3 separate regions of the Homo sapiens genome follow, and regions 1 and 2 are each reported to be linked to region 3. Evidence: microRNA targets listed by miRTarBase, many of them from high-throughput screens and not tested one by one. Region 3 holds a microRNA gene; each other region holds the end of a gene's coding sequence.
Evidence for each region. Region 3 holds the annotated microRNA hsa-miR-4717-5p (UAGGCCACAGCCACCCAUGUGU, at 2,097-2,118, shown strand). A microRNA usually pairs through its seed, bases 2 to 8, with sites in the 3' UTR of a target mRNA and lowers its output. Matches are read on the target gene's strand: a 7mer-m8 pairs with bases 2 to 8, a 7mer-A1 pairs with bases 2 to 7 and ends in A, and an 8mer does both.

Region 1: the mRNA of UQCR10 is a reported target of hsa-miR-4717-5p. Seed matches in the 3' UTR shown: 7mer-A1 at 1,091-1,097.
Region 2: miRTarBase lists SDC4 as a target of hsa-miR-4717-5p. Seed matches in the 3' UTR shown: 7mer-m8 at 2,274-2,280.

What each region holds. Positions count from the first base shown.
Region 1 is chr22:29,769,129-29,772,128 of GRCh38, forward strand. UQCR10 (ubiquinol-cytochrome c reductase, complex III subunit X) reads left to right here. Exons shown (of 2, transcript NM_013387.4): 2 at 550-1,285. The coding sequence ends at 591. Among named protein-coding and RNA genes, the nearest start is that of UQCR10, 3.3 kb to the left of the region's middle.
Region 2 is chr20:45,324,596-45,327,939 of GRCh38, forward strand. It overlaps SDC4 (syndecan 4), which reads right to left. Exons shown (of 5, transcript NM_002999.4): 5 at 693-2,820. The coding sequence ends at 2,669. Among named protein-coding and RNA genes, the nearest start is that of MATN4, 18 kb to the left of the region's middle.
Region 3 is chr16:2,272,533-2,275,876 of GRCh38, forward strand. MIR4717 (microRNA 4717) reads left to right here and starts at 2,088; the gene lies at 2,088-2,159. It overlaps MIR3677HG (MIR3677 and MIR940 host gene), which reads left to right. Exons shown (of 3, transcript NR_132988.1): 3 at 455-540.

The sequences.
Region 1 (3,000 bases), not on the chromosome of region 3:
CCTGTGAAATTAAGATCACCCCTTTCCACTTACTTCACCTGGTGATTGAAAGCATCATAGTATTTTATAAATGCCAAGAATTATGCATGAAGGCTCGGCGCGGTGGCTCACACCTGTCATCCCAGCGCTTTGGGAGGCCAAGGCAGGCAGATCACTTGAGGTCAGGAGTTTGAGACCAGCTTGGCCAACATGGCGAAACCCCATCTCTACTAAAAATACAAAAATTAGCCGGGTAGCGCATACCTGTATTCCCAGCTGCTCTTGAAGCTGAGGCAGGAGAATCGCTCGAACCCAAGAGGCTGAGGTTGCAGTGAGCCGAGATTGCGCCACTACACTCCAGCCTGGGCGATAGAGCGAGTCTCCGTCTCAAAAAAAAAATGTGCATCAAGCATAGGATTGCTTCGAGTTTGCCCACCACAAGTGTATCTTTTTAATCAGGACATGGCATGTGTTTCCCCCAAGCTCATTTTAGAGACCAGGGCAGTGGGAGTAGTTGTAAAATGTGAGAGGCAAAGGTCAAAGTTTGTGGCTCTTGTCTTTAAAATGCAGAAGCTGTGGAAACACATCAAGCACAAGTATGAGAACAAGTAGTTCCTTGGAGGCCCCCATCCAGGCCAGAAGGACCAGGTCCACCCAGCAGCTGTTTGCCCAGAGCTGGAGCCTCAGCTTGAAGATGATGCTCAAGGTACTCTTCATGGACCACCATTCGCTGTTGGCAAGAAACGGCTTTACTTACAAAACAGACTCTTTACCTTCTGCTGTGTTTGAAGTATGTTTAGTCAGCATGCTCAGGAAATAAATGTGAATTGCCCTTGAGACCTGCTTCTACATTGGTTGCTTTGTTAACTCTACCTGATCTTCACTTGTCAGTAATTTGAGACCACTTCAAAGCCCTCTGCAAACACCCCAAAGGCAGAATCTGCTATTTTGAGTTTTCCATTAACTTCCAAAGAATTCTGGTTTTCAAAACAGGAGCCAGAGTTGGAGATATTACAGTCAACTTTGGCTTCTAAGCCAGTAATTCCATTCTTAAATACCTCACTGTCTTGGCCATGGGGAAGCACTATGGCCTCAGCTGGGGGAAAGACCCTGGCCTAGGGGTCTTAGCCACTCCCCACCCTAGGGTATAGTTCAGGGGTATCCAATCCTTTGGCTTCCCTGGGCCATGTTGGAAGAATTGTCTTGGGCCACACATAAAATACAGTAACCATAGCTGATGAGCTAAAACAAAAAACAATGGTTTGTGCAAAAATCTCATAATGTTTTAATAAAGTTGAAGAATTTGTGTTTGGGCCTCATTCAAAGCCATCCTGGGCTGCGTGCAGCCTGCAGGCCACGGGTTGGACAAGCTTGGTGTATTCTGCCTATTACTGAGTATCTTTTGGTAAGCAGTCATACCTCTCTGGGTCACAGCCTCCTGCCACAGTTCCACTCTGATGAGTTCAGTTCATAAAAGTGCTTAGTTGGTGGGTTTGAATCCTTACTCCACTGATTCTAGCTATGGGAACCAAGGTGATATGGTTTGGCTGTGTCCCCACCCAAATCTCGTTTTGAATTGTAGCTCCCATAGTGCCCATGTGTTGTGGGAGGGACTCGGTGGGAGATAATTGAATCATGGGAGCGGTTCCCCCACACTGTTCTCGTGATAGTGAATAAGTCTCACGAGATCTGATGATTTTATAAGGGGTTTCCCCTTTTGCTTGGCTCTGATTCTCTTGCCTGCTGCCATGTAAGACGGGCCTTTCGCCTTCCACCATGATTGTGAGGCCTCCTCAGCCATGTGGAAATGCGAATGCATTAAACCTCTTTTTATAAATTACCCAGTCTCGGGTATGTCTTTATCAGCAGCGTGAAAATGGACTAATACACAAGGGCAAGGCACTTGAACTTGCTGAACTCCGGTTTCCTTATCTGTAAAATGGGGTAGTAGAACATACTGTGTGGGATTTTTGGGAGTATTAAAGGAGTTGCAGGCCTGTAATCCCAGCACTTTAGGAGGCTGAGGTGGGAGGATTGCTTGAGGCCAACAGTTTAAGACCAGTCTAAGCAACATAGTGAGATACCCTGCCTCTACAAAAAAATTTAAAATTACCTGAGCATGGTGGCACCAGCCTATAATCCCAGCTACTTGGGAGGCTGAGGTGGGAGGATTACTTGAGCCAAGAAGTTAAGGTTACAGTGAGTTATGATTGTGCCACTGCACTCCTGCCTGGGGGAGAGTGAGACCCTGTCTCTAAAAATTTTTGGCTGGGCATAGTGTCTCACACCTGTAATCCCAGCACTTTGGGAGGCCAAGGCAGGCGGATCACTTAAGGTCAGGAGCTCAAGACCAGCCTGGCCAACATGGTGAAACCCCATCTCTACTAAAAATACAAAAATTAGCCGAGTGTGGTGGCATATGCTTGTAATCCCAGCTACTCGGGAGGCTGAGGCAGGAGAATTGCTTGAACTCGGGAAGTGGAGGTTACAGTGAGCCGAGATTGCGCCACTACACTCCAGCCTGGGAGACAGCAAGACTGTCTTGCTCTGTCATCCAGAATGGAATGCTATGGCCTGATCTCAGCTCAATGCAGCCTCGACCTGGGTGCAAACAATCCTCCCACCTCAGCCTCCCAGGTAGCTGGGACTACAGGTGTGCGCCACCACTCCCCACTAGTTTTTTTGTATTTTTTGTAGAGGTAGGGTTTTGCCATGTTGCCCAGGCTGGTCTCGAACTCCTGGACTCAAGACATCCTCCTGCCTTGGCTTCCCAAAGTGTTGGGATTACAGGCGTGAGCCACCATGCCCAGCCAAAAATGTTTTTAAATTAAATTTTTAAAAATAGAGGAGCTGTAGGCCGGGCGTGGTGGCTCACGCCTGTAATCCCAGCACTTTGTGAGGCCGAGGTGGGTGGATCACGAGGTCAGGAGATTGAGACCATCCTGGCTAACACGGTGAAACCCCATTTCTACTAAAAATACAAAAACATTAGCCGGGCGTGGTGGCGGGCGCCTGTAGTCC
Region 2 (3,344 bases), not on the chromosome of region 3:
CCAACCCCAGCAAAGTACTGGGCAACATGGTGCCAAAGGAAGATCACCAATGTCCAAGGACCTGAAATTAAGGTTCGACTCTCCAGACACACTAGGGGCAGGTTGCCCTCTTGGTAACAAGGATCTTACCCACCTCACAGGGTTGTTATAGTGGTCAAGAAAGATGGCCCATGCTATTTCCGGAGACTGCCAGCCAGCCTGGCTGCAGCAGTGGCCTGAGTGAAGCAGGCGGAGACAGTGGTGCGGAGAGCCCACATCTAGATGGGTGCCTGCCGCTCAGCAGCTCTCTTGTTGCCATGCAGGCTGACAGTTGCCAATTTTTTTTATTTCTTTTTCCCAAGAAAAGTGAGAAATCTGGATTTTTATGAGAAACCTCCTGATTTCTATGGATGGCAACTGACGCAAAGATTTTTGTGTTTGCTATTTAAACACAGTGCCACCTAAACAAAACCTTGAAGTAGGGGTGATATGCTGCATAGGCCATCAGGGTGCATGTTCTGAAGTCTTCCCTCTTCTCTAGGCCCCTTCCTGCCTTCTTACCTCTCTGCCCCCACCCTCTGCCCACCCCCGGCATGTCTGGCACCCCGTAGGGGATTTGGTCCGGGGAGTTTCTTCATGCTCCACTGAGATCAAGGGGATACAGAGCCCAAAAAGGATGACTTGTTATGAACGAAAATGACAGAGGCAAGCAGTTTAGAAAGTACCAGGTTTTATTATCTTTTTATCAAAAAAAATCAGTAACAGACAACAGTGTGAGAGGTGCCTACAGAGGAGGTGCTCACTCCAACACAGCCCAAGGGGAAGGGCACTGGGGGCAGAAGAGGACCCAGCCAGCTGGGACCCTGGGTTGCAGTGGTGACGGGAGCTAATGGCCACTGGTGCAGCAAGGGAGGGTGGTTCCCCTCACCGCAGCCACTGGGGTCAGGAGGAGACACGACCTGCCCAGGCTAAGCCACCAGGCCTCCCCTCTCAGGAGAGGGAGGGTCCCAGACAACAGGCCCCAGCTGGGGCCTCATCAGCCCTCCCCCATTCCCCCCCCCCTACCCAGGGAGACAAGGGTCGTCCCAGCACAGCTGAGGCTGTGACTCGTTAAGCCAGTTTAGTTCTCTAGAATAGTGCTGTCCAACAGATGGACATGCTCTCGCTGTCAGTACAGTAGCCATGAACTACATACAGTGACGCCTCTAGAAACGTGGTTAGTGCAACTGAGGAAGGAATTTTTAATCTTATGTGATTTTAATTGGCTTAACTTTAAACAGCCGCATGTGGTTACTGTATTGGATAGCACAGCCCTAGAGCCTGAAGAAAGCAAACCAAAGAACACCAGCTGGGTCCCAAACAGAAGGCAGAAAGGGTAGAACCATCCACCTCAACTATTCCAGCCCCATCAGAAGGCACCAGGAACAGGGCAAGAGAAAAAGGCAAAAACCCACCCAGCCACATGAAAATTCACTCACTCAACCACCCAGCAACATCAAACTGGAAACACCACACTATTTCCTGAAAAAAATATATTTATCTATTTTTCTAGAACCAAGGAAGAATAATAATATATTATAAGAACACAGACACAAATATCCCACCATCCCCTTCATTATATTTTGGGATCTGCTAAAAAAAAACTATGTTTCGGCAAAAGCTATTTTATAAGAGGAAGCAGCTTCAGAAAGGGCCAAGGCCATGAGGAGCGGGGTTTAAAGTATAAAAAAAAAACTGGGGAAGGGGTTTAATGAAAGAGAACAAAGAAAGAAGAGGGGAAGGGAGGCCCTATCTAAAGCTATAAATAGTAAAAAAAAAAAAAAAAAAAAAAAATTAATAAAAATCATCTCTCCGGCTCTTCTCTCATTTTCAAGAAACAAACAAAAACAAAAACAAAAACCATTAAATACAAACTTAGCAGGTGCTGTGGAAATGTGCGAGAGAATGAAGACACCTCGGCACCTCCACACTCTTGCCCAGGCAGAGATATACACTCTGCACAAAGGAATGAACAGTTAAAAAAACGAACAAACACTAAAAATAGATTTACAAATATTCTATAAATCCATTTCAGCATAAACTCTCAGCTCTTTTCCCCATCCTCCCCCCCAAATAAAAAAGGTTGATTTCCAAAAGTCACTTGAAAGAGCCTAGAATGGCCCCAGGTATATACCACAGAGATTCCCGTAGTGTGATCACAAGTACCCATTTACAGAAACATCTCAAGGTGCAGGTGGTTCTAGTTCCTTCCCCCATTTCCTGGCAGAGAGACCGGCTGTGAAAGGAAGGGAGGAAGGCCACTGGGGGAGGACCTCCAGCCAGGACTCCACACAACATCCGTTAGCCCCCTGGCTTCAGAGGAGCTCTGGATGAGGCATGGTCAGTATGGGCTTGAGGGCGGACCTAGATTCTTAACTGGAAGTTTAAGAAGTGATCCAATCCCAGTCTTGCCTTCAGAAAGGCCAAGTTGAATCCATTTTTCTGCCAGGGCAACTGAGGCCCAAAGCTCAAGAAGAACCTGGCAGAACAGTAGAAGACAATGTCTCTTCTGAACACTTCAAAGGTAATCAGAGCTGGAGATACTGACAAGTCAGTATTAGGTTGACCTCACCCTACCCTAATGTCCACCCTTCAAAATCCCCTGGCTTCCCTCCCCGCTAAAGTCCAAGCCAGTGCCCACAAGCAAGCTTCACGCGTAGAACTCATTGGTGGGGGCTTTCTTGTAGATGGGTTTCTTGCCCAGGTCATAGCTGCCTTCATCCTTCTTCTTCATACGGTACATGAGCAGTAGGATCAGGAAGACGGCAAAGAGGATGCCCACGATGCCACCCACAATCAGAGCTGGAGAGGAGGAGAGAGAAGAGGCGGGGGTGAGAGCTCCTCATCAGGACCTAAGGATGAACCCCTCTTTCCCCCACTGTCAGTTCTCTTACAACCAGACATCCTCACCATCACCACTGCCTGTGCCAGGCAAGCTGATGCCTTATTTAAGTTGACCTCATGACCCCAGTTATAAGAAGTGGGTCGTTGGCATTTTAAGTCACTGAAGACCACAGGGCTAGTGGTAAGGCCACTCCTTTTTCTTTTTGAGACGAAGTCTCACTCTGTTGCCCGAGCTGAGTGCAGTGGCGTGATCTCGGCTTACTGCAACCTCCACCTCCCAGGTTCAAGCAATTCTCCTGCCTCAGCCTCCTGAGTAGCTGGGATTATAGGCACGTGCCACCATGCCCGGCTAATTTTTGTATTTTTAGTAGAGATAGGGTTTCACTATGTTGGCCAGGCTGGTCTTGAACTCCTGACCTTGCCCATCTCGGCCTCCCAAAGTGCTGGGATTACAGGCGTGAGCCACCGCACTCGGCCAAGGC
Region 3 (3,344 bases):
AGTGGTGTCTCCTGGAGCTGGTGAGACCCCACCTCACTCAGGAAACCCCCCAGACGCCCCCAGGCAGAAGTGGCCATACTCCAGGGCCTGCATCCCTGTGCCCCACAGTGCGCCCTGGCCGGTTGGTTGTAGGAACTCAGAAAAGCAAAGCAAACAGGATGGTTCCCTGCTGGACACATTACATTCCCTGCTGGACACATTTCTATTGCAGATCTTTAGTCCAGGATTCCAGGGTAGCCAAGGTCACCTGAGTCCTGGGGACTCTGGGCCTGGTCTCTGAAAGCAGCCAGTAAGACAGAGATGGGAAACCCAGCAAGATGGAGTGAGCCAAGGGCACAGTTGGGTCCAGGCGCAGCAGGGAGCTGCCTGGGGGTGACACACACTTGACGGAGGCCACTGCACACACCCTACCCCGGCCTGAACTTGAGCACTTCCTTTTTTTTTTTTTTTTTAGATGGAGTCTCACTGTAGTCCAGATGGAGTGCAATGGCGTGATCTCGGCTCACTGCAAGCTCCGCCTCCCCGGTTCACGCCATTCTCTTGCCTCAGCCTCCTGAGTAGCTGGGACTACAGGTGCCCGCCACCACACCCGGCTAATTTTTTTGTATTTTTAGTAGAGACGGGGTTTCACCGTGTTAGCCAGGATGGTCTTGATTTTTCGACTTCATGATCCGCCTGCCTCGGCCTCCCAAAGTGCTGGGATTACAGGCGTGAGCCACCATGCCCGGCCAAGCACTTCCTTGAACACAGAGGTGACCATGAGGAGGGAGGCGTGAACCAGGATGACGGGGCAGCAGATGGAGCCTGCCTCCCTGAGACCTCAGGTGACCGAGTGCTGGACTGCCTCCTCCTGCCTACATGGCTGAGAAATAAACTTCTTTTTCAAACCACTGTGACCTGGGGTTTTCTGATACCCTCAGCAAGCCTGTTCCTGTGGCCTGGTGTGGGTCCCCTGACCTGTGGCCTGGGCTGCCTGTATCCGGCCTGCCCCTCTGCTCCGCTGTAAACCTGTGATGGCAGTGGAGGGGCTTGGCCTGGGCCCGCCCCACCGCGAGGTCTTCCCCTCTCCGAGTTCTGGGTGTGGTTTCAGTTGAGCCACGCCGTTGGACTGGGCCGGCCTGGAGGACAGAAGGCACAGGCTCTTCCACATACCTGGCTCGTGGCCCATGGGCCGTCTGCTCACGGGAGCCCTGCACCAGGCCATGCAGAGCAGTGAAGTCAAAACCTCGTTTCCCAGGTCTAAGGTGAACTGGGAGCAGGGCAGGAGTTGGCTCTGTCAGATGCCACAGTTGTTTGGGGACAGTGTCCGTAGAGAATGTGTGGCCCCCCTCCGTGGTCTAGGGTGGAGCGTGGATAGGCCGGTCACTCCTATCCCTGGGCCCAAGGCTCTTTTCCCCTGCCCTCCCGTGGGCTGGGAACTGCCACAGCTCAGACAAAAATCGGCCAGGGCAGGGTCCTGAGGCTTCAGTCCCAGGCTCCTTAGGGCACCCCTGGTGACCCAGCTCCAGCACTGAGTTTCCAGAGGCCTTGAGGATTTCCCTGGGATGCCAGATGGGCCCTTCCTGCTGCTCCTGGGGTCATCTAAGCTCCAGGCTTGGGTGCAGCCCTGGGCCCCTGCCACAGACGCCCTGAATGCACCTGCCCCTCCCGGTCCCCACGCAGCAGCCTCCTGAGCTGCGGATCATTTTCCTAAGAAGGCATTCTACTTGTGCCAGTCCTTACTTAAAGACCCCTGCTGGTGCTGGCAGCGTGCTACCGGGAAGGATGGTATCTCCTGTGCGTGTCCTGTGTACGCTGGCCTCACACGTGTGTGCCTCATGCGGGCTGTGCCCTCAGTCCTATACGCTCTCCCCAACCCTCTTTTAGGGTGTCACAGGAGAAAAATGACACATTCCTAAATCTCTAACACATGGGCTTGAAAACAAGTCTGAGGATGCCCTGCAGAAGGGCCATGGGCATGGACATGGAGCTGGGTGGCCTCGTGCACTGACCTTTCCCTCTTCCTAGCCCCAGGCCCGACCTAGAGGCCACAGCCCCTGCGGACAGGCTGTGGGGCCAGAAGGGCCCACTTCAGAACTTTTCTCGTGGGCAGTGTTTAGGCCACAGCCACCCATGTGTAGGGGTGGCTACACATGGGTGGCTGTGGCCTAAACACTGCCCAAACACGTTATATTTTTTATAACATGGAACTAGATGGCAGAAGTTTAAAGGGAATAAAAGAGCTACTGGAGACGATTTGCAGCTTTCATAAATTTCCAGAGACTGATAAAAACACAGACTTGAAATTGTCCCAAATGAGCCAAAGTGATGAAAACAAGTCTTTTCTAAAACTCTGAATTCTAAGGGAATGTAAAATGCAGAAGTTCAAATCGGGTTTAGAAAACCATAAGAAATAATAGTGCATTCGCCGGGCATGGTGGCTCACGCCTGTGATCCCAGCACTTTGGGAGGCCAAGGCAGGTGGATCACTTGAGGTCAGGGGTTTGGCAGCAGCCTGGCCAACATGAGACCTCGTCTATACTAAAAATAAAATTTAGCCATGCATGGTGGCGCATGCCCTTAGTCCCAGCCACTCCGGAGGCTGGGGTGGGAGGATTGCATGAGCCCAGGTGTTTGAGGCTGCAGTGAGCTGTGATACCACCACTGCACTCCACGCTGGGCAGCAGAGCAAGATCCTGTCTCCAAAAGACAAAACACAAAACAGTGCATAAAAAGGGGCCAGGCACGGTGGCTTATGGCTGTAATCCCAGTACTTTGGGAGTCTGAGGTGGGTGGATCACTTCAGGTCAGGAGTTCGAGACCAGGCTGACCAAGATGGTGAAACCCCGTCTCTACTAAAAACACAAAAATTAGCTGGGTGTGGTGGCGCGTGCCTGTTGTCCCAGCTACTCGGGAGGCAGAGGCAGGAGAATGGCTTGAACCCGGGAGGCAGAAGTTGCAGTGAGCCAAGATTGCGCCACTGCACTCCAGCCTGGGCAACAAAGCAAGACTCCATAAATAACTAAAAAGGGAGCTGATGAGGAGTTATTTCTGGGAAATGGCAAATGCCCACGGGTGACCCTGATGCCAGCAGCTTCTCTCCCACCAGACCTGTGCTTCCCACACAGCCCCACCTGCTCTTGTCTTTAGACTAAGAGCCTGTCACCGGGCGTTGATCTAGCCGGCTTTTTCCTTTGTGTTATGGGCCTGTTCCTTCACCTCAGTGTATTCTCTGCGTGTGCTCCCTTCTGGGAAAAGCAACGTCCCACGTTTGTGTGATTGAAATGTGAAAGGAGAGCCTCATGTCTAGATTGTGGGCGAGTGATTGAGCCCTGTGACCGCTCGCGCGTGTGACCCACAGACTG